7 separate regions of the Homo sapiens genome follow, and all the other regions are reported to be linked to region 3. The links are microRNA targets in miRTarBase. Many come from high-throughput screens and were not tested one by one. Region 3 holds a microRNA gene; each other region holds the end of a gene's coding sequence.

The links. Region 3 holds the annotated microRNA hsa-miR-3613-3p (ACAAAAAAAAAAGCCCAACCCUUC, at 1,746-1,769, shown strand). A microRNA usually pairs through its seed, bases 2 to 8, with sites in the 3' UTR of a target mRNA and lowers its output. Matches are read on the target gene's strand: a 7mer-m8 pairs with bases 2 to 8, a 7mer-A1 pairs with bases 2 to 7 and ends in A, and an 8mer does both.
Region 1: miRTarBase lists SH3BP2 as a target of hsa-miR-3613-3p. Seed matches in the 3' UTR shown: 7mer-m8 at 2,324-2,330, 7mer-m8 at 3,077-3,083, 7mer-A1 at 3,084-3,090 and 7mer-m8 at 3,238-3,244.
Region 2: the mRNA of TENT5D is a reported target of hsa-miR-3613-3p. Seed matches in the 3' UTR shown: 7mer-A1 at 1,220-1,226, 8mer at 1,625-1,632, 7mer-m8 at 1,816-1,822 and 7mer-m8 at 2,353-2,359.
Region 4: miRTarBase lists ZWINT as a target of hsa-miR-3613-3p. Seed matches in the 3' UTR shown: 7mer-m8 at 1,138-1,144.
Region 5: miRTarBase lists SLC36A4 as a target of hsa-miR-3613-3p. Seed matches in the 3' UTR shown: 7mer-m8 at 1,517-1,523.
Region 6: the mRNA of TNFRSF9 is a reported target of hsa-miR-3613-3p. Seed matches in the 3' UTR shown: 8mer at 376-383, 7mer-m8 at 531-537, 7mer-m8 at 538-544, 8mer at 763-770, 7mer-m8 at 854-860, 8mer at 1,526-1,533 and 1 more.
Region 7: miRTarBase lists PTMA as a target of hsa-miR-3613-3p. Seed matches in the 3' UTR shown: 7mer-m8 at 2,938-2,944, 7mer-m8 at 2,847-2,853 and 7mer-m8 at 2,819-2,825.

Annotation. Positions count from the first base shown.
Region 1 is chr4:2,832,555-2,836,819 of GRCh38, forward strand. It overlaps SH3BP2 (SH3 domain binding protein 2), which reads left to right. Exons shown (of 13, transcript NM_001122681.2): 12 at 436-495; 13 at 1,143-4,265. The coding sequence ends at 1,280. Among named protein-coding and RNA genes, the nearest start is that of ADD1, 9.2 kb to the right of the region's middle. RefSeq lists enhancers at 2,595-2,674, 2,935-2,984.
Region 2 is chrX:80,442,639-80,446,903 of GRCh38, forward strand. TENT5D (terminal nucleotidyltransferase 5D) reads left to right here. Exons shown (of 3, transcript NM_152630.5): 3 at 1-2,671. The coding sequence ends at 1,071. Among named protein-coding and RNA genes, the nearest start is that of TENT5D, 24 kb to the left of the region's middle.
Region 3 is chr13:49,993,930-49,998,194 of GRCh38, reverse strand. MIR3613 (microRNA 3613) reads left to right here and starts at 1,694; the gene lies at 1,694-1,780. It overlaps TRIM13 (tripartite motif containing 13), which reads right to left and starts at 1,153. Exons shown (of 2, transcript NM_213590.3): 1 at 432-1,153. DLEU2 (deleted in lymphocytic leukemia 2) reads left to right here. Exons shown (of 14, transcript NR_152566.1): 11 at 776-1,121; 12 at 4,234-4,265. RefSeq lists silencers at 1,417-1,546, 2,137-2,186 and an enhancer at 1,727-1,856.
Region 4 is chr10:56,354,576-56,358,666 of GRCh38, reverse strand. It overlaps ZWINT (ZW10 interacting kinetochore protein), which reads left to right. Exons shown (of 9, transcript NM_007057.4): 7 at 1-111; 8 at 208-290; 9 at 482-1,440. The coding sequence ends at 249. Among named protein-coding and RNA genes, the nearest start is that of ZWINT, 4.6 kb to the left of the region's middle.
Region 5 is chr11:93,145,097-93,149,361 of GRCh38, forward strand. It overlaps SLC36A4 (solute carrier family 36 member 4), which reads right to left. Exons shown (of 11, transcript NM_152313.4): 11 at 1-3,748. The coding sequence ends at 3,441. Among named protein-coding and RNA genes, the nearest start is that of SLC36A4, 51 kb to the right of the region's middle.
Region 6 is chr1:7,916,895-7,921,029 of GRCh38, reverse strand. It overlaps TNFRSF9 (TNF receptor superfamily member 9), which reads left to right. Exons shown (of 8, transcript NM_001561.6): 8 at 107-4,135. The coding sequence ends at 195. Among named protein-coding and RNA genes, the nearest start is that of TNFRSF9, 22 kb to the left of the region's middle.
Region 7 is chr2:231,712,018-231,716,282 of GRCh38, reverse strand. It overlaps PTMA (prothymosin alpha), which reads right to left. Exons shown (of 5, transcript NM_002823.5): 4 at 3,767-3,840; 5 at 2,732-3,479. The coding sequence ends at 3,432. It overlaps MIR1244-1 (microRNA 1244-1), which reads right to left and starts at 2,969; the gene lies at 2,885-2,969. RefSeq lists enhancers at 752-991, 553-1,082, 1,083-1,612, 1,622-1,781, 3,584-4,084 and 1 more and a silencer at 1,270-1,564.

The sequences.
Region 1 (4,265 bases), not on the chromosome of region 3:
GCACCCCCCAATCTATTCCCTAATAGATCTCCATCTGCAAATTGGGGGCCATGATGGCCACCTCCCAGTGGGGGCCAGGACTCGGGTGGGGTAGGGCTCATGCTCTGGGGTGGCGGAGGCCACATGGGGCAGGGGAACGCCAGGTCTGCCCGTGTCCCTCCGAGCGTGAAGTTGTGACCTCACTGAGCCATGCTCTCCCGGGTGTGTCGGAGTGGTTATTGGTGGTTATGAGCTGTTGCTCATCAGAGGCTCTCTGAGGGCTGCCAGTGTCGCCCCCGCTGTCCTTGTGCAGGTGGTCTGGAGTCCCTCCCCGCCCCCCGAGGGCCACAGGACCCAGCCTTGATGGTTCTGCCCCCCTATCCCCAGCCCATGGTCTCCCGAGGCTGGTCCCGCTGTTTCTCAGGGAGCCGTCAGCCTCCCGCTTCCGTCCTGTAGGTCCTGGTTGTGTGGGACGAAACCTCTAACAAAGTGAGGAACTATCGCATTTTTGAGAAGGTGAGAGGGCTCTGAGTGGGACGGGGACCCTGGCCGCATGGCCTGGCAAGGGGCAGGGCAGAATCTCCCTGATGAGGCATAGGCAGCGGGTAGACTGAGACTGGCACCTCCAGGATACCGCCCTCCCCTTCCCCTCCACCATCGCTCACCCCCCACCCCTCCTGCTCAGCCTCCCTCCTCTCGTGGCCTACCTTTGTCCTCCACTGACCCTAGTGGGGATGGGCGGTCAGCCATAGACCCTGGGTTGCTTGTCTTGTCTTTTTCTTTTTGCGGGGACAGGGGTCTCACTGTCTTTCTCAGGCTGGTTTCAAATTCTGGGGCTCAAGCAATCCTCCCACCTCGGCCTCCCACAGTGCTGGGATTACAGGCGTGGGCCACCGTGCCTGGCCTAGGTTCATTTCCTGACCTTGTCTGAAGTGCTCTGGGTGCAGGCTCCTGGACATGGAGGACGGAGGGGAAGTGAGGTGGGAACATGGAGAGCACAGGCCTGATGCGGAGGCCACCTTGGGGGCACCACCGACAGCCAGGGGCCAGCCTGGTGATGCCGCTGTTGATGCTGCTGCCTTGTTTTACAGACGGGGAGACTGAGGCCTAGAGCCGCAGAGTGGCCTGGCCCTGCTGACGCTCCCCCTTCTCTTCCCCCACAGGACTCTAAGTTCTACCTGGAGGGCGAGGTCCTGTTTGTGAGTGTGGGCAGCATGGTGGAGCACTACCACACCCACGTGCTGCCCAGCCACCAGAGCCTGCTGCTGCGGCACCCCTACGGCTACACTGGGCCTAGGTGATGGCAGTCCATGTGGCTGCCAGGCCAAGGCAGTCACAGGGGCCCTGACCCCAGGCCACACAGACGGACATGGGCCCACATGGGAGGGTGAGCAGGAGCAAGGCTGTGCTTGCCTAGGGCCTCTGTGATGGACATCTCGTAGGACCCAGCCAGTCTCATCCAGCAGGTTGGGTTCTAGGGCTGAACCAGGCGCCAGGCTCCAGAGGACGAAGGGACTCTGTTGCCCCACACTAACTTGCCCTGTCCCAATCCCAGAAACCCAGGACCAAGCTGTGCCTGGGCTCCAAGGACAGGAACACTGGTCCCCCCATCACACTCACCCCTAAGTGGGCTGGGAGCCAGGCAGGGCCAGGGCAGCTGGGTGGGGGCCGGGGCTGGCCCTGGGACCCCCAGGAACGCTAAGACACAGGCTCCAGTAGGGGCTGTTGCCTCCAATAAAGCAGCAGTGAGCTTTGCCTTGGTGGCTGGGGCTTGATTGGGAAGGAGGGGATTACCAGCTTACTGGGTGCCCATGCTGATGTCTAAGTGGTGACCGCAGCAGTACCCGGGAACCCCAACAGTTGGTTGTCTTGTCTTCCAGGGTGCAGGTCACTGAGTGACTTCCCCAGGGTGCACAGCGAGTAACAGATCAGGACCCAAACTTGGGCAGTCTGGGCTGGGAGCCCACACCCCACTCACCAGTTCTGCTGCCTCAGGTCAGGCCAGGGCAGTGCTGCTGCAGAGCTAGAAGGCCCTGCAGCTACAGCTGCTTCATTCCCTGCATTAGTGCCTGGTTACTGGGTACCTCCTGAGTGGCTGTCCCCGTTCCAGAACTTGCATACACTGAGCGGGCTACAGAGCTAGAAGGCCCTGCAGCTACAGCTGCTTCATTCCCTGCATTAGCGAGCAGTTATTGGGTACCTCCTGCATGCCTGGTCCCATTCCAGACAGGGGCCTCTGGCCTGGCTGAGTTCACAGCCCAGTCTGGGGACAGCTGGGTATGAGGTGCTTACGGCACAGTGTCCAGGGCAGCTGGGTGTGCAGGGACTGGGGGCTCCCGGAAGATTTTTTGGAGGAAGTAACAGCTACGATGGGATGGGAACAGTGGACCCTAAGCAGGCCAAGGGTGCGTAGGGACGGTGGTACCCAGATGCCCAAGTCTTCCAGGCAATACCTGGCTCAGGCCCAGCCCCAATCCATCCCCTTACTTTCTGCCATGGAGTTCCAGCAGGTCACTCTCCCTGGCACACCTTCCAGGCTGGATTTTTAATGAAACAGACTCAGGGAGGTAGGGGCTGGCAGGGACCCTAGAATCCTTGTGATTTTTCTTAGCACCTTATGTCAGGGAAACCTAAACTGAGGTCAGCACTTGGGCCCACTGACAGTGACTGACTGGGGGAGAAGGTCCTGCAGCCCCCTTCCCCTGGGTGTGTTCTGGGGACCTGTGGTTTGCTGGCGGAAACAAGTGATGAGGCTGGTTAGCGGATGTGGGAGGCTGTGACCCCAGGGGGCCATAGGGTGCGGTGGAACTGCAGGCCCTGCAGATGACGGCAGCCAGCTGCTTCCAGGAACCAGGTGTCCAAGGCCACCTCTGCAGGGGTTTCCTCTTCAGCCTGCCTGGGGTGAGAGGTCAGTGCACCACAGCCGAGGCTGGAGCACAGGGAGCTTCTGTTGTTCTGATCTATCTCTGGAAAACCAGCCATTCCTCCTCCCTGCAGTCAGAATTCTTTGCCCTGTCTGACCTGAACTTGCTTAGGGAGTCATGCCACTCCCCACTGTGGCCATAGTTTCTCTTCCTGTAAAATTTTATTATTTTAGTTTTTTGTTTTTGAGATGTAGTCTCACCCTGTCGCCCAGGCTGGAGTGCAATGCCGTGATCTCCGCTCACTGCCACCTCCGCCTCTCTAGTTCAAGCGATTTTCCTGCCTCAGCCTCCCGAGTAGCTGGGATTCCAGGCGCCCGCCACCACGCCTGGCTAATTTTTTGTATTTTTAGTAGAGACGGGATTTTATCATGTTGGCCAGGCTGGTCTCGAACTCCTGACCTCAGGTGATCTGCCCACCTTGGCCTCCCAAAGTGCTGGGATTACAGGCATGAGCCACTGTGCCTGGCCCCTTCCTGTAAAATTTTTAAATGGAGAATTGGGTGCGAGATGTGGTTTCCAGCCTGGTGCCTGGGGTGCTGAGCTAGTGAGTGGTGCAGTCCAGGACACCTTTGCTTTATGTCACTTACACGGTCACCTGGAGCCGGCTCAAGTGGCTAAAGCATCCTGGGGCCCAGAGCCAGGTGATAGGTCCCTCTGGCCAACTGGACAGTTGAGGCCTGTGGTTACCCGAAGCCCAGCTGGGGCCCTGGTCCAGCCTCGCCTCCCAGACTCTGCACCTGCTAGCACAGCTGTCCACGTCTGTGTGAGCTGCTCTAGGCCGAGGGCCTCAGTTTCAAGAGTGTGTTGGGGTGGGATGGGGCAGGCCGTGGTCCTCCAGCATGAAGAAGGAGCCATGAGGAGTTCCCATGACCTCCCGAGACTTGCCATAAGTGTTCTAGTCCACATATAAGGGTAGGGTTGGGATTACCATTTACTGACCACATCTGTGAGGTGCCGAGCTGGGTGCTTGACATCATTTGCTTGGAGAAGCAGCTGCTAGTAGACCCATTTTACAGGTGAGAGAACCAAGTCTCACAGAGGCCTGGGTTCAAGTCCCACCTCTGCCACTAACTGGCATGTGACCCTATCTATCCTTCACTGCTCTGAGCCTAGACCCTGGCCCCTGCCTGGCTCCCTGCCAGGCTCCCTGCCACCCCTCACGACCTCTGATGGTCGTTGTGGGGGTCTCTTGCCTGGCTCCCAGGGCTAGGGTTAGGGCTCTGGAGGTGCTTTCACTCAACCAAGGGGGCCACAGCACTGGGGAGTGAAACTGCCCCGCCTCACCCTGCGTTGCCCTCTGGGTCTGTGAGGGTGGGCTGGCAGGAGGCCTAGGCCTTGCCCTAGGGGCAGTCCTGCTTCCTC
Region 2 (4,265 bases), not on the chromosome of region 3:
CCCACAATGGAGGTAAAACCAAAAGACATCATTCATGTTGTGAAAGATCAACTCATAGGGCAAGGAATTATTGTTAAAGATGCCAGATTGAATGGTTCCGTAGCAAGTTACATACTTGCAAGCCACAATGGAATCAGCTATAAGGATCTGGACGTTATTTTTGGTGTTGAGCTTCCAGGTAACGAAGAATTTCAGGTTGTTAAAGATGCAGTTCTAGACTGTCTACTTGACTTTTTACCAAAAGATGTAAAGAAGGAAAAGCTCTCCCCAGATATCATGAAAGACGCTTACGTACAGAAATTGGTCAAGGTTTGCAATGGGCATGATTGTTGGAGTCTTATCTCCCTTTCAAATAACACTGGGAAGAATTTAGAACTAAAATTTGTGAGTTCACTCAGACGGCAGTTTGAATTTAGTGTAGATTCCTTTCAAATTGTTTTGGATCCCATGTTAGACTTCTACAGTGACAAAAATGCCAAGCTAACCAAAGAATCCTATCCTGTTGTGGTAGCTGAAAGCATGTATGGAGACTTCCAGGAAGCAATGACACATTTGCAACACAAGCTCATATGTACCAGGAAACCTGAAGAGATTAGAGGTGGTGGCCTTCTGAAGTACTGCAGCTTGCTGGTTCATGGCTTCAAGCCAGCCTGTATGTCAGAAATCAAAAACCTAGAACGTTATATGTGCTCTAGATTCTTTATTGATTTTCCTCATATAGAAGAACAGCAAAAGAAAATTGAATCATACCTCCACAACCATTTCATAGGTGAAGGAATGACCAAGTATGACTACCTTATGACCTTGCATGGAGTTGTGAATGAAAGCACTGTTTGCCTCATGAGTTATGAAAGAAGACAGATTCTCCACCTGATCACCATGATGGCTTTGAAAGTACTTGGAGAACTAAATATTCTACCCAATACACAAAAGGTAACTTGCTTTTATCAGCCTGCTCCGTACTTTGCAGCTGAGGCAAGGTACCCTATTTATGTAATACCTGAGCCACCCCCCGTTAGCTTCCAGCCATACCACCCACTGCACTTTCGTGGATCAAATGGTATGAGTTAAAAAATACACATGCAACCATAGAAACTTTGATTTAATTAAACACCATTTAAAAGCAAGTTTCCAAATGTAAAATTCAAGATCTGTTTTTATTTTTGTACAGTTACCAATTATTTTCAATTACAGTTGATGGAATAGTAGTTACCAACTATTTTTGATCAATTAAGCCATCATAGTAAATACAATATCTATAAACCAACCACTTTAAATGTTTTTCAAACGTTATTGACTAGCTATAATAACTTTCAAATGTTGTGTTCCCCTTGAAGTGATTTTCAAATCTTTTGACTACTTGTGACTTTCAAATTTACTGTGACAAATATATTAGAGATGCCTGCATCTTTGACTATAACATAAAAGGACAGATTCATGTTTTAAAATTAAGATGTACAGTGAAGTATCAAATTTTTTATATTCAGTCAGTTCCTTTGTTACATTTAGTTCTTTTTTTCTATTGAACAATACCATCAATAAATGTTCAGTACTTAACAGAAATGCCTAATTTCAAAAGCAACAGATTCAGAAGACATTAAAACCCTGGACTTTTCAAGCATTTTTTTTTGACAATTAAATTGGGTTGGATACAAAAATCCTACTATAGTTTAAAGGAATACTGGAAAAAAATGGTTCTGGAAAGCCCTGGACATTAGTAATTTGTCATCTATATAATAAAACATTTAGTTAATTTGTGGATTTGAATAACAATACCATACAGCTGTGCAACTACTACTGAGATCAGATACAGGGTTTTTTGCCCCTCAAAATAAGTTAAAACGAATGAAAATGACCAGCTCTGAATGTGAAAGCTTTCTATCATCATCTACTACAAAGAGACTCTAAATGGCAAACAGGAAAAAAACAGGCAGAGGTTTATAGCCATAGCATTTACCATTTTATGGCTTATTTGAAAAACATCTTTATGTTGAGAAACATTCCATTTCAGTAAGTTAAAATATTTTCATTGTAACTAAATGAAGCAGGTTTTTCATTTTGCCTTTACCAAAGATCATTTTCTAACATGCCACTCAAGTGCCTCTTCGTGTGAATTTTTGCGTAACACTATAATTTATTCAACAACTGTATACCTTTACAGTATATCTAAATATATACTTACTACATCGAGTATACTGCTAGAAAAATCTACCAGTGGGATTAAAAATGTATTTTCTTCCCATAATGAAAATAATTCATGACCAATATTACCTGAAGTGTCAGAAGAGGAGCTGTCTTAAATTAATATGGATCAGGCCATTGGAAAACTTCAGTATTTCCACTTGGTTATGATTTTTTGTGAGTTTCCATTTCAGTTTTTATTGACCATCACGTTTTCTATCACAACATGACCTGACAGTTGTATCCCGATAATTTGCCAGTTATAGACTGTGCTTATCTTCACTGTATTACAATATTGGACAGAAGTACACCAAATACGGCATTTTCAAATAACCAATATTTCTGAGATGTTTTATACCACAGCACAAGTGGCCATCAGTATATTTTTAAAGAATTATATATCACAGAACCCTGAGGCTTTAAAACACTATGGACTTACCACTTTCTTGACAAAGAATTTGTAATTACAATAAAATATTTAGAAATGAAAGGACTATGATTGTGATGTCATGGGTATAGATTCAGTAGGTTCAATATTTTCCAGAGTGGTATTTGACACTGAATAGCAGAATTCTGAAGCTATTTGGAAATATCTCATACCCCATGTGCTCCCATAGCTTTCTTTGATCCCATTGAGAATTTAAACTCCTTCTTTCCTAAAAAGCAAATTATTTATGGTATTCTCCTAAAGCTTTAAGTCCTGATGGAAGAATGGCCTGAAAGCTAGGTATGTTCTCCTAACATTTTAAGCATGTATTTCCCTTGTAACAGCAAAGCTCTCAGAACTGCTATCTATGATTTTCTCAAGAGAAAGAATTTAAACCTCTTGAATGGGGATGGTATCACTGAAGAAAAAGCTGTAGCTTTATTTCTCATGGCTTGCTTTCTATAGATACCGTTACCAAGCTAGTACTTTGCTCCCAACCAACCAGAAAAATATCAGTCTTCAATAGTGTATGAATATCTCTCCAGGATTAGGCTAGTTCCCTTGAGAAGGAGTATTATTTCATTCTGCTGATTAGGGTAGTAAATGGAAAAGTTTTTCTGTAAATTAATGAATGCTAGCCTCTTTGCCAAAAGGAGTTAATAGAAGTTATTTTTTTAAAAACCCTACTCTAAAGCATATGACATCCCATTACCAAAGAGAAACAGTATTATCTTTGCCTGTTTAATATGTAGCCATTTTATTTTGTACAAACGCAATACTGAGTCTTGGTTTAGGAAGTTTTTTTTTTTCAGGAACCTAACCAAAACCAAAAAAGAAAGCAATTTTTAATATAATTCTAACATTCATATCTGTGAGACAAATTTTGTCAGCTACAGATACATATTTTTTAAACCAGAATATTCTTGTATTTCAAAAATATCCACACATTATTATCAAACTTCTACAAGTAGGGTATTTATAACTTTTAAAGTTTTATATATTCTTCTAATAGTGACTCATGCCCAATTTAGTTGAACAGAATTGAAAGAGAAGGATTAACTAGTTGATTTAATTTAGAGAAAAGCCATCTAAATTCAAGACAAAAATATCAGAGCTAGAAATGTCAACTTCCCCTCAAAACTCGGAAAGCCTTCTGTGCCCAAATTCCATCTTCTTACATCAGCAAAGATCTATTAAAATACATTCAAATTAGAGAGTTTAACATTTGTCTTTAAAGTCACAGTTTAGTTATGCATTGATAAAAATAAGATGAAAAATGCCTCAGATACAATTAAAAATCCTTTTTATTCAGTGCATCTATTACCTGGAAGTAGTCGTTCAACTTTAAAAATATGGGAAGTTAAAGCATATAATTGAGAACATTGTTGAAGTTTTAAAGTTTCCAATACTTTTCAAAATTACATTGATTTAAGAGCGCATATGTCTCACTCATTGAAGATTTTCAGAAATATAACTTACATTGTAAATTAACATTAAAACAGGATTGGGAGATATGTAGAACTATAATTTGGTAAATATTTTCATGAAGACCACTTTGATAAGGCATCAAACCCAACATTTTAACCTAATCTGGGATTTATTTCCTTTACCATTGTAAAATAAAATGCATTTAACATTTTGTTTTTAGTTGTGCTCT
Region 3 (4,265 bases):
TATAGCCGGTTAACAGCTCCATCAAGTTCTACTAGAAGGAGTGCCTATGTAAATGAAATTCTGCTTTTAAAGTGCCTATTATATAAAGGTCTCTAGAAAACTCAAGCCCTGTTCTACAAGCCCTAGCAGCCTGACAATTCACTAAGCATAGGAGAAGGGAAAAAAAAGTAGGAAAAAAGTGTGGAAGCCCCTTTCTTCCTTTGTAATATGAATGTTTGGCTATATTTAAGATAAATACCACATAAATAATTGCTAAACGTGAATTCTGTTTTTCTAAGTTTTAACAAAATATGCAAAGAACAAAGACCACCAATGAAAGTGGATGGGAACATACGTATTCTACACACAGTTCCATTTTGGAAGGTTCTAGGGCCTATTGAAATTGGGTGTTTAAAAAAAAAAGATAACACAGGAAAATTATTGTAGTTTACCTCTGTCTCCTACAAGCTGATGTATTTGGCAGGGTTACTATTTCCCAGGGCAAAGCAGGTCTTTTTTTTCACGTTTTGACTAACGAACTAGAGGCTACTGCAAAGAAAGAAGAAAAAGAACAGTATTAACGCATTTATTTGCACAGCACCCCAATCTTGACCCTCAATTTTTTCAATCGCCCCCACAAATAAAGCCCGGCTGTTTAGACCTGGTGAACCGCCAGGAGCCTGGAGCTCTTTGTATTAAGCAGCTTCTCGGTTAGGGCGCCCTCCCCCGGCGCCATGCAACCAAACGCTGGCGGCGCGCTGTAACCTAAGGCCCACACCCGTCTTTTCTTTTCTAGGGGATGTGGAGACGCTGGTAGCGGGGCCAGGAAGGCTCCGGACGGAGCAGGTTTTCTGGACCACAGACACACTGCCCCGGCGCCCTCCGCAGGCCGCTCCTCCCCAGGCCCATGACAGTGCCCCGCTGGTTTCTGCCGCGCTGCCGGACTGGAGCTCAGACGGCCTTCGCCAGCCCCCCCAACCCACGCAGATCCCTGCTGACCTGGGCAACTCCCCACCCTCGCTGAAGGTTCGAGGACCACCCCGCTTTCCCGAGAGGAGCCGGGCGGCGGGTACTTATCTCCGACCTCCGGCTAGTGGGAAAGGCCGCGCGACCGCCCGTCCTCCAACTACAGGGACCGCACGGTACGCGCCAAGCACAGCCCCAAAATGGACTCGCGGCTCCGGCTAGCTCCGCCCCCTTCCCTCTCCCGCTTCCCCTTCCCCTCCCGTCCCTTCCCCCTCCCCTCCCGTCCCTTCCCCCTCCCCTCCCGTCCCTTCCCCCCTCCCCCTCCCTTTCCCCTCCCCCTCCCCCTCCCTTTCCCCTCCCCCTCCCCCTCCCTTCCCCGTCGCCCGCCTCCGCCTGCACCTCCGGCCCCGCCTCCCCGTCCCGCTTCGCCTGTGTCCCGCCTCCCCGGCCGCGCCTCGCCTTGGCGGAGGGAGCCGGGTGGTGAGACCGCGTTCCTTCCGGCGTCTCCAACCGCCGCCTGCTCCCGCCGTCCACCCGCGCGGGCCGCCTGGGACGGGGAGGGCCGGGCTGCGGGCTTTTCTCCCTTCCAGAGTCCTGCGCCCGCCCAAAGCCCCCCCGCAGAGGCTGGGCAGCGGCTCCGGGAAGTGGACGCCGTTTGCCCAGACGGTGGGCTCGACTGAAGCGGCGCGGTCCCGGGTGGGGCCGCCCGGGAAGAAAGTCTCCCAGTTAAGCTGCCGTGCAATTAAGATGGTTGGGTTTGGATTGTTGTACTTTTTTTTTTGTTCGTTGCATTTTTAGGAACAAAAAAAAAAGCCCAACCCTTCACACCACTTCATCCGCATCTCAAGACCAGAAGCCGACCCCAGCGGCTTGGGGAAATGGAGCCCCGCACCCCACAAGGGGGAGGGTGGGACGGGCACCTCCGCACTGCGCGGCCTGCGGAGTCACCGATTCGCGTTGGGAGCGCGCCAGGAGCGCCAGGGCTCTAGCCGGGGGCTCCGGGCAAGGCGCAACCAGAAAAGGGTTCAGTATCCCCCATCACCCCCACCCCCAACCGTACCCTCTTTCTTTGCGGGCTTTAGGCAGGACACCAGAGACCCAATTCTATTTAAAATTCTCTTTTAAGAAAAGGAACGCCTGTTTTTGCCTTTGGGGGAAAGGATGAACTTTCAAATTGGCTTTAAATTATCCACCACTAACAGTTACTCAGTCGATAACCTGACTATTCTGACGTCCACCTCCCGTTTGAGGACCTTGCCCAATAGCAAACGTACTAAGCACTTAACCAGTGAACGGTGTGAAGGATGCAAACATGGATGATGAAGGAATGGCTCCTCCAGAATTTACGATCTTGGGAGAAGTGAGGCGAGTATAGAATCTCAGAACACGCTGTAGGATTGAGTTCGATCCCAGTTGAGGAAGTTTGGGTTTGGGGAGGAAATAGGTTATTTTGGAGAAACGGTATTCAAAACCTACCATAAATAGCAGTACAGCCCGTTGACTAATAATGCTTAGCCCAACCCCCGTAAAAAGCCCCTGGCCACATCCGTCTCCTGAGATTCCCACTTCTCTGTGTGCATCTCCCTTCCTGCTATAAGAAACCTAACTTTGCCTTCGTAGAACACTTCTTTTAATTTCTGTCATTCAGTCTCATAACACTGTGTAAAAGAAATTATGATCTTCATCCTATATAGATGAGAAAACAGGTGAAGTGACTTTTCCAAGGTACAAAAGCAAGAGGCAGAGCTGAGGCTAAAGGCAGCTTCCAGATATGGGCTCTTTCTACAGCACCATAACTGTCAGTGACAAAACTGCACCCCAGTACCTTACTAAATTTAGTGTTTTTAGGCCAGGCACGGTGGCTCACGCCTGTAATCCCAGCACTTTGGGAGGTCGAGGCGGGCAGATCACCTGAGGTCAGGAGTTCCAGACCGGACTGACCAACATGGTGAAACCTGGTCTCTACTAAAAATACAAAAATTAGCCGGTCATGGTGCCGTATGCCTGTAGTCCCAGCTACTTGAGAGGCTGAGGCAGGAGAATAGCTTGAACCCGGGAGATGGAGGTTGCAGTGAGCCGAGATCCTACCACTGCACTCCAGCCTGGGCAACAGAGCAAGACTCCGTCTCAATAACTAAATTAATTAATTAATTTAGTGTTTCTAAAAAAACAAAGTGATCTGTAGAAACATCTCATTTATTTGTTGTCATTGTGTGTTGATTGATTTTGAGACAGGGTCTATCTCTGTCCCCCAGGCTGGAGTGCAGTAGCATGATCATGGCTCACTACAGCCTCAAGCCCCTGGGCCCAAGTTATCCTCCTCCCTTAGCCTCCCAAGTAGCTGGGACCACAGACATGCGCCACCACGCCTGGCTAATTTTATTTTTTGTAAAGATAGAGTCTCACTATGTTGCCCAGGCTGGTGTCAAACTCCTGGGCTCAAGTGTTCCTCAGGCCTCAGCCTCCCAAAGTGCTGGGATTACAGGCGTGAGCCACCACACCCAGCCATATGGAAACATTTCAGATATCCTAATATTAAAATGATATTTCACAAGACTGGACAGTTATTAACTCATGTGAAAGGAAAATCTTGGGGCCCCAAAATCACTAAGCTAAAGGAAAAAGTCAAGCTTCGGAGAACTGCTTAGGGCAAACCTGCCTCCCATTCTATTCAAAGTCATCCCTCTGCTCACTGAGATAAATGAATATCTGATTGCCTCCTTTGGAAAGGGTAACCAGAAACTCAAAAGAATGCAGTGATTTGCCTCTTATCTCCCTAAAACCTGGAAGCCCGCCCCCTGTTTTGAGTTGTCCCACCTTTGCTTCAAGTCGTCCCACCTTTTCTGGACTGAACCAGTGTTCATCTTACACACGCTGATTGATGTCTCGTGTCTTCCTAAAATGTACAAAACCAAACTGCTCTGACCACCTCGGGTTCTGACCTCCTGAAGCTGTATCATGGGCACGCATCCTCAACCGTGGCAAAATAAACTTTCTAAATTAACTGGGACATGGCTCAGATTTTTAGGGTTCACACGCAAAACCCACAAATTATCCTTAATATAATTATATAATATATATTTATGTAGTTAGATCTGGTTGGTGGTAGATACTAATACACTTTTGCCCAACTAAGTGTAAAACACATTAAATCTGTATAGCAATCTCTAGACTATTACACAAAATTAACTACTAACTAGAAAACACAGTATATTAAATTCTCTTAAGTGTGGAAAAATGGAGAAGGAAGAATAACCTTTTCTCTCCTCCCGTGGTCCTAATACACAGAACAGCGACTGGGAAACTGCCACTAGAAAAAG
Region 4 (4,091 bases), not on the chromosome of region 3:
GCTGAGGCTGAGGCAGAGAATCTTCCAGATGATAAACCCCAGCAGCCGACTCGACCCCAGGAGCAGAGTACAGGAGACACCATGGGGAGAGACCCTGGTGTGTCCTTCAAGGTAAATGAGAGATGGAACAGGTGGGCATGGGCTGGCAGGTGGAGACAGAAGCTGGGAGATTGGCCTTACCCACTGTCTATACTGTATTTCTCCAAGGCTGTTGGTCTACAACCTGCTGGAGATGTAAATTTGCCATGACTTCCTGGAGGACAGCAGCATGGAGAAAGATCCTAGAAAAGGTCAGACCCAACTCAGGCCTTGGTGTCCCTGGACTGCAAGTGTGGAAGGAGGGAAAGCCTGGTTTACCTCTCTCTGCATCTGAGCTCTGCTACCCATGGAGCAGATGGATGGTGGGAACAGGAAAGAGCTTATGTTACACCTCATTCCCATGCTTAGCCCACCCAGAGCTAACCCCTGTCTTCTTCCCCAGGCCTCTGACTTCCCTCACCTCCCAACCATCATTACAGGAAAGACTGTGAACTCCTGAGTTCAGCTTGATTTCTGACTACATCCCAGCAAGCTCTGGCATCTGTGGATTAAAATCCCTGGATCTCTCTCAGTTGTGTATTTGTTCATCTTCATATGCTGGCAGGAACAACTATTAATACAGATACTCAGAAGCCAATAACATGACAGGAGCTGGGACTGGTTTGAACACAGGGTGTGCAGATGGGGAGGGGGTACTGGCCTTGGGCCTCCTATGATGCAGACATGGTGAATTTAATTCAAGGAGGAGGAGAATGTTTTAGGCAGGTGGTTATATGTGGGAAGATAATTTTATTCATGGATCCAAATGTTTGTTGAGTCCTTTCTTTGTGCTAAGGTTCTTGCGGTGAACCAGAATTATAACAGTGAGCTCATCTGACTGTTTTAGGATGTACAGCCTAGTGTTAACATTCTTGGTATCTTTTTGTGCCTTATCTAAAACATTTCTCGATCACTGGTTTCAGATGTTCATTTATTATATTCTTTTCAAAGATTCAGAGATTGGCTTTTGTCATCCACTATTGTATGTTTTGTTTCATTGACCTCTAGTGATACCTTGATCTTTCCCACTTTCTGTTTTCGGATTGGAGAAGATGTACCTTTTTTGTCAACTCTTACTTTTATCAGATGATCAACTCACGTATTTGGATCTTTATTTGTTTTCTCAAATAAATATTTAAGGTTATACATTTCTTCTGACTTCCTTTATTTTCACAATCATTCAATTCATAGCATTTCCTATATTCTGTTATAATTATTTCATTGATTCATAAATTTCTTTGAAAAATAATTTGGTCTTCTATTGATTGTGAGAAGATAATCTAAGTTTAATTTGGTCAGAGAATATCATCTGTTTAATAAACTTTGAAATTTGGTGAGTGAATTATCTTTTTTACTGATAAAGAGTGATGTCATCTTTTTTAATGTTTCACATAGGTTTGGAAAGAATGCATTTTAGATTGTGTGTAGTATTTTCTATTAGATTATGTTTGCAATTTTTGTTTCAATTTATATCTTATATACTTAATTTTTTGTTGTCTGTCACCTGAGAGGTGTGTTCAAATCTCCAACTATGATAGTGGATTTGTGCATTTGTCTTTATAGTTCCATTTTCTTACATACTTTGCAGTTACTTTATTAAGGTATATGTAAATTTACATTTATATTTTTCTTCTGAACTGAACTCTTTGTGTGGTAGCCTGCTTCATCTATAGGCTAATGTGTTTAACCTTGAAAACTACTAGTTTTAATATTAATATAACTGTCAATTCTTTTGGTTACCCTTTGCTTGACATCCTTTCTCTTGAATTTCCATTCTTTTTTAGTTTCAACCTTTCTTTATATTTACCACTTGTATACAGCATTTAAAGGGTTATTTATAAAAAAAAAAAAAACTCTTGTCACATTTGTCTTTATGATTTTCTAGTTGTGTCAATTTTTTATTTGCTTTCTCTTGGCTTTTTATTTATCCCTTTCATGCCTTTTATTTTTTATTGTTTCTTCATGCTTTTTGTTGTTTGTTTGTTTAGAAGGTCTAATTTAGACCGGCTAGTTTAGCTTTCATAGTTAGCAATGTCTCAAGTTATTTAAAGAATTAAAGACTCTTCATCCTTTTCTTAATAAATGAAGCCTAAACAGCTGTAACCATTGATAGATCATCCCACTCTAAACTATTAAGGTATTTTTGTCCAGTTTATTACTTCTAGCCTGTTTGTGTTCTCATAAATTAATTTTTTAAATTATTTTATACAGTCAATGCTTTATTACTAATTTATTTACTATTTTTGCCCACATTATTTTTACATTTCAGAGCTTTCATGTGGAATACTTTTTCCATCTGAAATAAATGTCTCAGAATTTCCCTTAGAGTTTGCAGACTGTATAATGTTTTAAATTTTACTATGAAAATATTTTTATTTCATCCTTATTCTTGAGAAATGTTTTTATTATGTAGAGAATGCTTGGTAGGCAGTTTGACTTAACACATTGAAGATTAACTCAACTGATTCTCTGGTCATCTGGTTTTGATCCTTGATGATGAGAAGTCAACTGTCAGTTTAAAAGCCCTTCCTATGCATTTTTTTACCCAGTTAGTGCTTTTAACACCTGTATTTAGTGCTCTATAGTTTTACTATATTGTGAATAGTTTGGGACTCTGGTTTACTTATTTATTCATTCATTCTGCTTGCAAATAGTTGAGCTTTCTAAATTGCCACTCTTTCAACAATTCTGGAATATTTTCAGTTTATCTGTTTAAAAAACACCTCTTTTGTATTAGCTTATTCTAAAATGCCAATTAGACATCAATCAAATTTTCTAACTTTTTTCTTCATGTCATGCAAACTTTCTTTTGTAGTTACCATTGCTCTTTCTGAGATTGCATTCTAGATGCTTTTTCTATTTTAACTTTATATAGCCAAGCTATTGTTTTTTCATCAGTTTCTTAATTTTTGATCTTTGATTTTCATTTCAATAAGTTGTATTAGATCTCAATTTACTACTGCTTTTGAATATTTTCTTCTGGCTTACATTTTGAGCTTTTTAAATTTTTTTTTTTAATTCTTGATGTATTTGACTACATAGTAGGTATACATACGAGCTTATTTTTTATTATCTTAATATATGGACACTTCATTATCTTTTTTGGAAAGGTTCATAATATATAACTTTATTGGCCTATCTCTCATACTCCCTGTTTAATATAGTTCATGTAGTTTTACTTTGAGCTGCCTATTTTTCCTAAATTTTACCGTTACGGCCTGATACAAAATTGAGAGAATTTGTGTTAACTTCTGTCAATAGCTTGTGGGCATTACCTGTATAACTCTTAGAAATGTTAAAATGAGTGTTTTTAATGTTTTTTATATTTGTGTGCTATCCCATTTTTCATTCCTGTTGTTTATTTTCTTTCTTATTAGTATTTCCCAAAGGCCTTTTTTCTACTTTATATGTCTTTCAAAAACACAGGTATTGGCATTATTTTCTTTAATGTTGCTTTTAATACATTCTTTTAATTATTTTTTGTCTTTATTCCCTTCTGCTCTAATTTTTAATATTTGTAGGATTTTTAAAAATTAATATTTGATAATACATATGTTCTTTTTTATAGTCCAACAAACGCATTTACATATTTACATTTTTATTTGACCACCACTCTGAGAATAATTCATATATTTTAATACATAGGCTATTGATTATTTCTAAATAGATTATAATTTTAGTATTGATTTTATTTTAAATCAAGGAGGTTTCCTTTGTTGCCCTTGCCTCTCAAATGTATTTGTAATAGTGTTTAGTTCCTCAATGGATTTAAGATAATTTTGTTATTTTTAATGCACCAAATTTTGTAATCTTACTGTTACTTCTTTTATTCCATTTGCTTCAAATGGTATCACACCTCTGAATATTGTTCCTTAAAATTTATTAGTTACATATAGGCTTATGTATATGTGTAGTCATTATATATGTTCTTATAGGGAAGAGATTTTATCATTTTTGTTCATCACTAAACCCACAAGTTCAAGAAAAATACTGATAGAGGGTAGATCCACAAA
Region 5 (4,265 bases), not on the chromosome of region 3:
AAGTAAGCTATAGTAAGACTTGTGCCTTGCCACAGCTAGAAATGGCACTAATACTTTAATATTTCAAGTAATATTTTATAGTATTTTGCAGTTAAAGAGATTTTACATAACTACTATGAAACTACTAAGATTAGACACTGTTAGGAAATTCAAAACATGCACATTGACATACAACGCTTGTAAATATGTAAGTGCATTTTCCAGGCAAGATGCAGAAATCATTTTAATAACGGAGAATTTAGTGAGAATACGACTAAATATAATGTGGCATTTGCTAATACAGACTTGTTTTCATTTGGTAACATCATCTAAACTGGTTTTTAACCAAGAATACGCTGTAGCTCTTATTTTCTTAATTGTAAAGAAATCTGGCCATGTGGGGAAAAGAAGTCCCTCTGAAAAAAACGTCTGAGAACCAGTGTTTTGACAAGTTGACTCTGATACTGATGAAACTCTTGGGTGTAAGGGAACAGTGATTAACTGACTTGGAACGGAGCTCATTAGAGGTAAATAAAGCTTTCCTTTCTTTCCCCTCAGTAGCAGAAAAGTCTCTCAGGCAACTGATTAACTTTCAGGGAATAGTTCTTCACTGTGGTGGCCAACAAAATGCTGAAGTCATTTTAGTCACAGTGTGATGATCCAAAAGTGATGAGATACAAAATTTGACAGGTGCAATCACTCTCATTTCTCCAGGCTCCCAAAATAAAAGCAAGAGCTGGTATAATCGAAATATCGTCTCCAAAATCTTTAGGAAATTTTACGACTTATTAAAGCTAAATTTTCAGAGAAAAAATTACCCACTGGTTATTTTTGCAAATAAAATGCATCATCAAATACCCTTAATAAGAATACATTTAAGCTTTCCATCTAAATAGTGTTTCTTGTTGAGAATTAAAACTTTCTTCCTTTTTAGCCCCTCTTCTTTTCTGCAATTCAACTTTTTCTTGTATTTAAAGTATTCATCATTTATTGAATTTAGTACTGGATGTTGATTCACCATTCTTATTGCTAAAGGAAGCCTGATTGATAATATACTCAAGATGAGTTTGTGCTGAATTTAAAAATTATTTATTGCTATGATCAATTTTATTCAAATTTCATTGCATTTGATGAATTCCTTAAGGAAAATAAACAATGGGCCAAAGTGTAAAAATTAAATAACATACATAGACTAGAAATATTATCTGAAAACAGGTGACAAAAATCTAATGCTGCTTCCTATTAAATAATAATTTTCAACTCATTTTATATCAAGCTATAAAGTTTTTTAAACATCTAATTCAAGATTATATAATACTAGTTTCAGTGAAGATTCGTTTTCCTATAACTTCTTCTGCATTCTCTTAGTATGACTAAAGGCTCAGTGTAACAGAATTGATATAAAAGTATCTCAAACAATTACTGTTGATACCTAATGTGAATGGTTAAAAAAGTTTTGATTCTTATGACTTTGTACCAAAATAAAGCTTCTGATATATCTTTAGGATTGTATTTGATGATCAGTTAACGATACAAGCAAAAAATACTTGAACTAAGTTAACATTTACATATAAAAATAGAGAATATATACAACTATAGTGATCTTGATGATATCTTCAAGTATGGTATACTAACAAACTAGAGTATCACCAGCCTGAGTAAACAGTTCATGTTTTAAAGTCTAAATTGTTTTTAAAGTCAGAAGACAATTCTATTCTTAATAATTTTCATTTTCCCCACTAACTGAGAGATTCTTTATCTTGGTTAATAACTTGAAAAATATGGAATAATTAGAAGTTATTTGTCTGAAAGAAGCCTGGAGTGTCTCAATATTTAGAAGGGAGTTTATGGATTTTTTCTAAGCATGAATCCCTTTATGTTATGATTCTTGTATATATTTATTGTTGTTTTAGTTTTTAAGAGTTGGGATCTCCCTCTGTAACTCAGGCTGGTGTGCAGTGGCACAGTCATAGCTTACCACAGCCTGAAACTTTTGTGCTCGAGGGATCCTCCTGCTTCAGCCTCCTCAGTAGCTGGGACTACAGGTACACGCCACATCAGGCTAATTTTTTTTTAAATTTTTATGTTTTATAGAGTCGAGGTCTCACTATGCTGCCCAGGCTGGTCTCAAGCTCCTGGCCTCTCAAGTGATCCTCCCAACTTATCCTCCAGAGTAGCTGGGATTATAAGCACAGACCACCACACCTAGCTGATTCTTTTATTCTGCTCATAATAAATAAAAGGCTGTGATAAGAAAAGCCACAGGGCTGGAAAGAGTCCACAAATCCTCCGTTTTCTGAGGTGTCTATTTTCTGCCATTCAGGAATGTGGTGCCTACAAAACTCAGGAAAGGAAGGTAATAATTAAAAAAGCTCAAGCCACAAATAGTATAGCTAGACACACATCTTACTAGCCAGGAGTTTCACCAGCAAGCGGTCTCTATTCTGTTTTAAAAGAACATAGCTTCTTTCTCTTGCTGAGGTTTATATGGCCACAGTGTAGGCTTCTTGGAGTTCCCTGATTTTCTGCTCAGGTCACATATACTATTAAAAATCACACATTCATTTTCAAAGTATTAAAATATAATCAAATAGATTCAACACTAAAATTAAGCTGAACATAATTTATTCTTTTTCTTGGACATGATGTGAGAAATAAAACATCCTGGCCTGGGAGTCAGAAGATTAGGTTTTCTTGATCTCAAGGCTGAGTGGTCTCGACCAAGTTACTTAACCTTTCTAGGCCTCCTTTTCCTCTGACGAAAAACAAGGGAGTTGCACTGGATAAGTTTTAAAGTCCCTTTTCAAATTTCATTGAAACACTAAGTCATGATCTTGAACAGTGCCTCTTGACTATGAAGATCAACTACCATTAGAGTGTAAAATTAATTCTAGTGTTTGCAATTTTCTGATGCTTATATTATGTTAATGGGAGTTTTCTATACTTCCAGGAGCCAATCATTAGAATTTGGCTAATAAAAACATAACTGAGATTTTTTTTTTTTACACTGTACATAAAGTTTACTTTGGCATTCACAGGGATGATCTGGAGAGAGCTTTTTGTTATACATGTTCTTATTTTATTCTCTTATTGTTGAAATCCTATTCTGTTCTCAAGTGAGTGGCAAAAGAGTAGCATAAAAGAGAGATAACTTGGTTAAGGTATTTCTTACTGAGATAAAAGAATAATAGAAGTATTTTTATTCTTTAATTTTTTTACATTTTAATTTTTTCAATTTTCAGAACTTAATTTTTTGAACTATTGCTAACACTTAAAAGCAAGGATTTTTCATAGGTTTACCACTACTGGTAAAGAGTTATGATTACTTCCAAAATATTAATATCGTGCCAAAGAAAACAGAGTTTGTTACCATTTTTATGTATATAGCAATGTATTTTACTAGTTATCTTGATAATTTTCAGAAATGGGACAAAAATAGAAGACTCATGATTCTGCTTTTACTATTTCAAACCAGATGTTAAGCATGTTGAATTCAAATTTAGAAAAGGACTCTGTGGAGTGCCAGCTACAACTTTGGGAGTAGGATAAATAATTTCTTCAACAGTTATATATGTACCTAATAAGAAGCCAACAACTCCAGTGAATGCTATAGAAATATTTTTCAGGACCATCCATATATTATAATGTTCCTTCGAAAATGTAAGAATTTCAACCAAAGGTGGCAGGATTAGGGCCAATGTGCTGCTGCTCACAGCTCCAACGAAGGAAATCACAATGTCTAAACGAGGAATAAGAATTGCTCCGGCACCTAGAAAATGAAAATACATTTATTTTTCTTATTTAAATGTTTGTTACTTACATGAATATTAACAGTAAGTATTTTCAATACTGAAAGTAATTACTAGAAATAATTAATGAAAGTTGAACTACTAAACTATTGCTTGTGAAAAAAATCTGCCATATTTTGTTCTAAGCTAGAGAGAGACAGAAAGACCAAAATAGTGAGTGACATGTCCTAGACTTACACTTGTCAACAGTTTCTTATGTAAACAACTTTTAATTTTTTGCTTTAAAATTCTGGGCAAAGAAGTTTTGATAGTTTATTTCCAGAGCATTTGCATTACTTTGTCTGCCCATACAGCTCAATAACGCACAAGACATAGAGTGGTGGGACATAAATAAATGAGAGAGAAGAGATAGCTATTCCTTAAAGTAGAATTCCAATTAATCAAAATAGAAGGAACAATGGAAACAGAAAAGCATTAAGCAAATACCACAATAATCACAGGATAGGAAGAGTCACTGATGAATGCTGAAATTAGTGG
Region 6 (4,135 bases), not on the chromosome of region 3:
AATGTTTGCTGCTTAGAGATGTTCTGCAGCTATAATTTATGGAAAATAAGTGTTAAATGATTCAAATAGACAACAAAATATACGTATCTTAAAATTTTTTTTTTAGCATTTATGAGACCAGTACAAACTACTCAAGAGGAAGATGGCTGTAGCTGCCGATTTCCAGAAGAAGAAGAAGGAGGATGTGAACTGTGAAATGGAAGTCAATAGGGCTGTTGGGACTTTCTTGAAAAGAAGCAAGGAAATATGAGTCATCCGCTATCACAGCTTTCAAAAGCAAGAACACCATCCTACATAATACCCAGGATTCCCCCAACACACGTTCTTTTCTAAATGCCAATGAGTTGGCCTTTAAAAATGCACCACTTTTTTTTTTTTTTTGACAGGGTCTCACTCTGTCACCCAGGCTGGAGTGCAGTGGCACCACCATGGCTCTCTGCAGCCTTGACCTCTGGGAGCTCAAGTGATCCTCCTGCCTCAGTCTCCTGAGTAGCTGGAACTACAAGGAAGGGCCACCACACCTGACTAACTTTTTTGTTTTTTGTTTGGTAAAGATGGCATTTCACCATGTTGTACAGGCTGGTCTCAAACTCCTAGGTTCACTTTGGCCTCCCAAAGTGCTGGGATTACAGACATGAACTGCCAGGCCCGGCCAAAATAATGCACCACTTTTAACAGAACAGACAGATGAGGACAGAGCTGGTGATAAAAAAAAAAAAAAAAAAGCATTTTCTAGATACCACTTAACAGGTTTGAGCTAGTTTTTTTGAAATCCAAAGAAAATTATAGTTTAAATTCAATTACATAGTCCAGTGGTCCAACTATAATTATAATCAAAATCAATGCAGGTTTGTTTTTTGGTGCTAATATGACATATGACAATAAGCCACGAGGTGCAGTAAGTACCCGACTAAAGTTTCCGTGGGTTCTGTCATGTAACACGACATGCTCCACCGTCAGGGGGGAGTATGAGCAGAGTGCCTGAGTTTAGGGTCAAGGACAAAAAACCTCAGGCCTGGAGGAAGTTTTGGAAAGAGTTCAAGTGTCTGTATATCCTATGGTCTTCTCCATCCTCACACCTTCTGCCTTTGTCCTGCTCCCTTTTAAGCCAGGTTACATTCTAAAAATTCTTAACTTTTAACATAATATTTTATACCAAAGCCAATAAATGAACTGCATATGATAGGTATGAAGTACAGTGAGAAAATTAACACCTGTGAGCTCATTGTCCTACCACAGCACTAGAGTGGGGGCCGCCAAACTCCCATGGCCAAACCTGGTGCACCATTTGCCTTTGTTTGTCTGTTGGTTTGCTTGAGACAGTCTTGCTCTGTTGCCCAGGCTGGAATGGAGTGGCTATTCACAGGCACAATCATAGCACACTTTAGCCTTAAACTCCTGGGCTCAAGTGATCCACCCGCCTCAGTCTCCCAAGTAGCTGGGATTACAGGTGCAAACCTGGCATGCCTGCCATTGTTTGGCTTATGATCTAAGGATAGCTTTTTAAATTTTATTCATTTTATTTTTTTTTGAGACAGTGTCTCACTCTGTCTCCCAGGCTGGAGTACAGTGGTACAATCTTGGATCACCGCCTCCCAGTTTCAAGTGATCTCCCTGCCTCAGCCTCCTAAGTAGCTGGGACTACAGGTATGTGCCACCACGCCTGGCTAATTTTTATATTTTTAGTAGAGACGGGGTTTCACCATGTTGTCCAGGCTGGTCTCAAACTCCTGACCTCAGGTGATCTGCCCACCTCTGCCTCCCAAAGTGCTGGGATTACAGGCATGAGCCACCATGCCTGGCCATTTCTTACACTTTTGTATGACATGCCTATTGCAAGCTTGCGTGCCTCTGTCCCATGTTATTTTACTCTGGGATTTAGGTGGAGGGAGCAGCTTCTATTTGGAACATTGGCCATCGCATGGCAAATGGGTATCTGTCACTTCTGCTCCTATTTAGTTGGTTCTACTATAACCTTTAGAGCAAATCCTGCAGCCAAGCCAGGCATCAATAGGGCAGAAAAGTATATTCTGTAAATAGGGGTGAGGAGAAGATATTTCTGAACAATAGTCTACTGCAGTACCAAATTGCTTTTCAAAGTGGCTGTTCTAATGTACTCCCGTCAGTCATATAAGTGTCATGTAAGTATCCCATTGATCCACATCCTTGCTACCCTCTGGTACTATCAGGTGCCCTTAATTTTGCCAAGCCAGTGGGTATAGAATGAGATCTCACTGTGGTCTTAGTTTGCATTTGCTTGGTTACTGATGAGCACCTTGTCAAATATTTATATACCATTTGTGTTTATTTTTTTAAATAAAATGCTTGCTCATGCTTTTTTGCCCATTTGCAAAAAAACTTGGGGCCGGGTGCAGTGGCTCATGCCTGTAGTCCCAGCTCTTTGGGAGGCCAAGGTGGGCAGATCGCTTGAGCCCAGGAGTTCGAGACCAGCCTTGGCAACATGGCGAAACCCTGTCTTTACAAAAAATACAAAAATTAGCCGGGTGTGGTGGTGTGCACCTGAAGTCCCAGCTACTCAGTAGGTTCGCTTTGAGCCTGGGAGGCAGAGGTTGCAGTGAGCTGGGACCGCATCACTACACTTCAGCCTGGGCAACAGAGAAAAACCTTTTCTCAGAAACAAACAAACCCAAATGTGGTTGTTTGTCCTGATTCCTAAAAGGTCTTTATGTATTCTAGATAATAATCTTTGGTCAGTTATATGTGTTAAAAAATATCTTCTTTGTGGCCAGGCACGGTAGCTCACACCTGTAATCCCAGCACTTTGCGGGGCTGAGGTGGGTGGATCATCTGAGGTCAAGAGTTCAAGATCAGCCTGGCCAACACAGTGAAACCCCATCTCTACTAAACATGTACAAAACTTAGCTGGGTATGGTGGCGGGTGCCTGTAACCCCAGCTGCTCCAGAGGCTGTGGCAGAAGAATCGCTTGAACCCAGGAGGCAGAGGTTGCAGCGAGCCAAGATTGTGCCATTGCACTCCAGACTGGGTGACAAGAGTGAAATTCTGCCTATCTATCTATCTATCTATCTATATCTATATATATATATATATATATCCTTTGTAATTTATTTTTCCCTTTTTAAAATTTTTTATAAAATTCTTTTTTATTTTTATTTTTAGCAGAGGTGAGGTTTCTGAGGTTTCATTATGTTGCCCAGGCTGGTCTTGAACTCCTGAGCTCAAGTGATCCTCCCACCTCAGCCTTCCAAAGTGCTGGAATTGCAGACATGAGCCACCGCGCCCCTCCTGTTTTTCTCTAATTAATGGTGTCTTTCTTTGTCTTTCTGGTAATAAGCAAAAAGTTCTTCATTTGATTTGGTTAAATTTATAACTGTTTTCTCATATGGTTAACATTTTTTCTTGCCTGGCTAAAGAAATCCTTTTCTGCCCAATACTATAAAGAGGTTTGCCCACATTTTATTCCAAAAGTTTTAAGTTTTGTCTTTCATCTTGAAGTCTAATGTATCAGGAACTGGCTTTTGTGCCTGTTGGGAGGTAGTGATCCAATTCCATGTCTTGCATGTAGGTAACCACTGGTCCCTGCGCCATGTATTCAATACGTCGTCTTTCTCCTGCGGGTCTGCAATCTCACCTACCATCCATCAAGTTTCCATAGGGCCATGGGTCTGCTTCTGGGCTCCCTGTTCTGTTCCATTGTCAATTTGTCTATCCTGTGCCAGTATCACACTGTGTTTATTACAATAGCTTTGTAACAGCTCTCGATATCCGGTAGGACATCTCCCTCCACCTTCTTTTTCTACTTCAGAAGTGTCTTAGCTAGGTCAGGCACGGTGGCTCACGCCTGTAATCCCAGCACTTTGGGAGGCCGACGCGGATGGATCACCTGAGGTCAGGAGTTTTGAGACAGCCTGGCCAACATGGTGAAACCCCATCTCTACTAAAAAATACAAAAATTAGTCAGGCATGGTGGCATGTGCCTGTAATCCCAGCTATTTGGGAGGCTGAGGCCGGAGAATTGCTTGAACCCGGGGGGCGGAGGTTGCAGTGAGCCGAGATCGTACCATTGCACTCCAGCCTGGGTGACAGAGCGAAACTCTGTCTCAGGAAAAAAAAGAAAAGAGATGTCTTGGTTATTCTTGGTTCTTTATTATTCAA
Region 7 (4,265 bases), not on the chromosome of region 3:
CCCCAGGGCTTGTGATAGCAGTAGAGGAGAAGCAGTACTGATTCCTGGGGCTGTGTAGCCAACAGCCAAGATAAAGCCAGGAAGTAGAGCTGGGAGCCCCTGACTCCCCGCCCCCCATTCTAGTGACTGAGTCATTCTAGTCATTCTAGTGAACACCCCCCATTCAAACTCTCCTAGTTTGTACTCAGGGCAGCAGTCCCAGTGAGGGTGTGTGGAGTCCAGTGAAGGAGTGTGGAGTCCAGTGAGGGAGCGTGGAGTCCAGTGAGGGTCTGTAGAGTCCAGTGAGAATGTGTGGAGTCCACTGAGGATGTGTGGAGTCCAGTGAAGATGTGTGGAGTCCAGTGAGTAAGGGTGCGTGGAGTCCAGTGAGGGTGCGTGGAGTCCAGTGAGTGAGGGTGCGTGGAGTCCAGTGAGTGAGGGAGCAGGGAGTCCAGTGAGAGAGTGTGGAGTCTGCTGAGGCAGTATGGAGTCCAGTGAGTGAGGGTGCATGGAGTCCAGTGAGGGTGCATGGAGTCCAGTGAGGGTGCATGGAGTCCAGTGAGGGTGCGTGGAGTCCAGTGAGGGTGTGTGTGGCCACAGGGAAGCCCAAGACCGTGGAAGAGTGGACCCCTGCTTCCAGCTTTGGTTCCACGTAAAGGACTCAGTCCTTGGGAGAGGGCATCAGTTGCCCAGAAGGAAGGTCTGGGAAATGACCACTGACTGTCACATCTGACTGGGGTTCCAGCAACAGAGAGGGAGAAAGGTCTTGTTGCGGGAGTCAGGTGGAGGGTGACTGGCGTTGCCTACCTTGGGACCAGGGCCCACTGAAGGGTCTTTCCTGGACAGAATTCAGCGGCACGCTTTACAGTTCCTCTGTGTCCACCAGGGGGCGCCCATTCCTTGATAATCTTTTAACCTGGGCTCCAGTGGGAGGTCATTCGGGGACTTTGGGAGTGGTATCAAGGTGACTCTGGGCCCTGAGGTATATCCTCAGGCAGTGGTTAATTGTGTGCTAGGCTCAGGACTAGGGGTAAGTGTGTTCTGCTAGAACCAGCAAATGCTGTTCCAGGCCAAACCTTTGGTGGGATGAGGCAGCTCAGACAGCAGAGGCAGTAAGCTCTGCTGATATGGGTGTCTCAGGGGGACCCTAGCAAGGCAGCCCTGGGCCCTGGCTCATGCCTCATCCTATTGTTCCCATTTTGCAGAGGAGGGGATTGAAGCCCACAAGGTTCAGTTACTTGCCTCATGCTAACATGCCTGCCGTGTCTGTGTGCGGACCAGGGCACAGCTTCTCCCCTTTCAGGGGCCTTGCGGTAGTGGTCCCGAGCAGGACTGCAGCCTGAGGGAGCTGGGTTAGATCTGCTCTCAGCTCCAAGCGCTACCTGCCCTGTGTGGCCTTCCTTCACGGCCTTCGCCTGCACTCCTGCCTTAGAGACACCCTCCTGGGCGCCGAGCTTGGGAACACTGCAGTACTGAGTCGCCTTGGGCGGCAGAACAGAGAGGAGCCAGCGTTTTGGCTCCAGACCCTCCCTTTCTTCCCTGGATGAGCCAGGATGCAGATACCCAGGCTGTGCAGGGGGTGTGGGGTAGATACAGGTCAGAGGGTCCCTCCTACCAAGGCCTCAACCTGCCCCCGATCCTGGTGGCAGCTGCCTGGGGACATGCTGAACAAGCGGCCTGAGCAGCCCCATGAGAGTGACTAAGCTCCAGCCAGAGAAGGGAAAGGTCCCCCCAGAACTCTGGTGCCTGGTGTGAAACACAAAGGTCGGGGGGGCATGGAATGGGGTGGACACGGTGTCAAGGGGCAGGTAGAGGGAACTGGTCTCTCTTGCTCTCTTCAATGCACACATTTCCCTCCTTCCCAGCATCTCCCCTTAACCCAGGCCAGGCCTCTGCAGACACTTCAGTCTGCTCCTGGGAGTTTTCCTGCAGATACCACTGGATGGCTTCCTCAGGTCCTACCTGGGCAACAGGCCCACTAGCAGTGCCTATACCGGCCCCTGCCCCTGCAGCTCTCATTGGAGGATCCCAGAAGGTTCTAGGTGAGCTCTAATCCTTACCTCCACCTCTGAGGGCACGAGCTGGTGGCACTTCCTCCAGTTGGCTATCCTGACCCACTGCTCACAGCCCGTGTATGAATATCCAAACGGCACAGTAACTTCTCCAACTGTGTTCAAGGGGCAGGGTGGGCCTGCCCAACTAACCTAAGGGACCTGGAGACCAAAGGTTGGATGACTGCCAGGCTGCACCAGTGCCAAACCAAAACCCCGGCATTCTAAGAGGCCGGGGGGTACCACGTGCCACCAGCAGGGGGAGCCACGTCATGGAGCTAAACCTGTGAGGCCTGCAGAGGCAGCCACCACTTGGACGCTCATCCTGGGAGGCTTGGCAAGTTCCCTCTTGGCCTATACCACCAGCACCCTGCGCTCCACATAATGGCAGTCCCGTGTGGCCCGTTTCCAGTGTCTAGGACTGCAAACCCCCACCCCCAGGGCACCAGGGTCCCCATGTGGCACCCAGTGATGAAGTCCTCCTCCCCAGTTAAGGCTTCTTGGGGCAATCACTGACTGCCCCAGTGAGCAGCCCCCCCAGCCAACTGCAGCTCAGTCCCTGCCCACCCACCAGACTCTGCTGCCCATCACAGGACACATCCAACTGCCTCCCAAAATGTCAACCCACTGTCCCCAGGATCCTCCCCCTCCTATCCTTGTGCCCTGGAAGGTCTGAAGAAACTGAAACAGAAAAACCAGGCTTGAGACAGCTTTGTTAGAACAACTCAGCAAAATAAAATTCCTGTTTATTGTTGGACAACATTGTTTCACACATACATCAAACAGGCCAAAAAAAATAAACAGCAACTTCATAGACAAAAAAGGAAAAAAAAAGAAACCTTTTATCTTTGGCCTTTTTAACCATCTCATACAAACCAACTACTTATAGTACAGCTAAGTACATACACAAAAAAGTTACTGGAATGCTCGGAATAAGATTGTTTTTCTGTTGTCATTTTTGCTTTTTTTACAAGGTTTTTTTTCTCCTTTGAGATTATAATGAACATGGTCACACCACAAGTAAAGTCAGAAGTAGGACAGAGAACGCTCCGAAGGCTGGTTTGGTCATCCGAGATCATTAAAAATGGCTGACCCTAACAATATGTACAAAAATATAAAATGTAAATAAAAAATACAAACAAATTTCCTTTTTAAAGTACTTTTAAGAAAAAAAGCAGGGCCTTGGAAGTTTTGGTTCTTTTTTCCTCCCCTGTTGCAAATTCTCATGGTTTGGGTTGGGTGGTGGAGAGCGCGTGTCATCTGCGGGTGGCACTGCCCACGGTGGGCGGGCGGGCCTCTCTACTCGAAGGTGACCACGTTTAGATTCTGAGACGGGAAGTGGAGGGTGAATAGGTCACGGCGGCCTTTTTTTTTTTAGTTTAACTTTTCCTTTTTTGCTGTCTAGTCATCCTCGTCGGTCTTCTGCTTCTTGGTATCGACATCGTCATCCTAAGCAGAGAAAGACTGTCAAAGGCCCCTCCAACCCCAGGAGCCCTATCCAGCCCACTGCCTCAGCTCCTGCTGGCAGAGCAAGAACCAGGGACCCCCAGCTCCACAGCCCAAGGCCTCTGGGAAGTTGAGCCCAGCCCTGTTTCCTTCCTGTTCTTAAGATTCAGGACCACACAGTGGCCACCTACAAAGTCAGAAACAGTCCCTCCGCAGCTTGAGCACCTCAGCTAAAGGCAGGTGGGGAGACCCAGATGCCAAACCCCCCTTCTTCTCAAGCCAGAACCCACCTCATCATCTTCAGCTGCCCGCTTGCCCGTAGCTGACTCAGCTTCCTCATCTTCATCTCCATCCTCTTCCTCACCTGGAGAGAATCAAAGGCCAGGTAAACCACACTTCCCTCCTACTGTGGCTCCTGGGGAAATCCCGAGGAACATGTAGTGGACTGCAAGGTCCCTGCCCTGCCTCTACTGCCTGCAACTGGGCCCAATCAGGGCACCCACGCCCACTACACAGGTGGGACTCTCCAGAGGAGAGAGGCCCAAGCAGCTGCACCCCAAAAGGCCAGCCCAATAGATCAGTGGCTTTCAGAGCTGCACGAAAGAAACTTTCAGGTGTGCGAGTGAGTGTGAGTGGGCATGGGCACAACTCCATGTCAGGGAGACCTTCCCTGACTCTACAGGTGGGTGCCCAGGGCCATGTGGTCCACTGGCCCCAAGTACCATTGTCCCACTCCCAGGAGCCCCAATTCCTTCCTTCCCCTTCTGCCAGACAAGGCCAGGAAAAAGT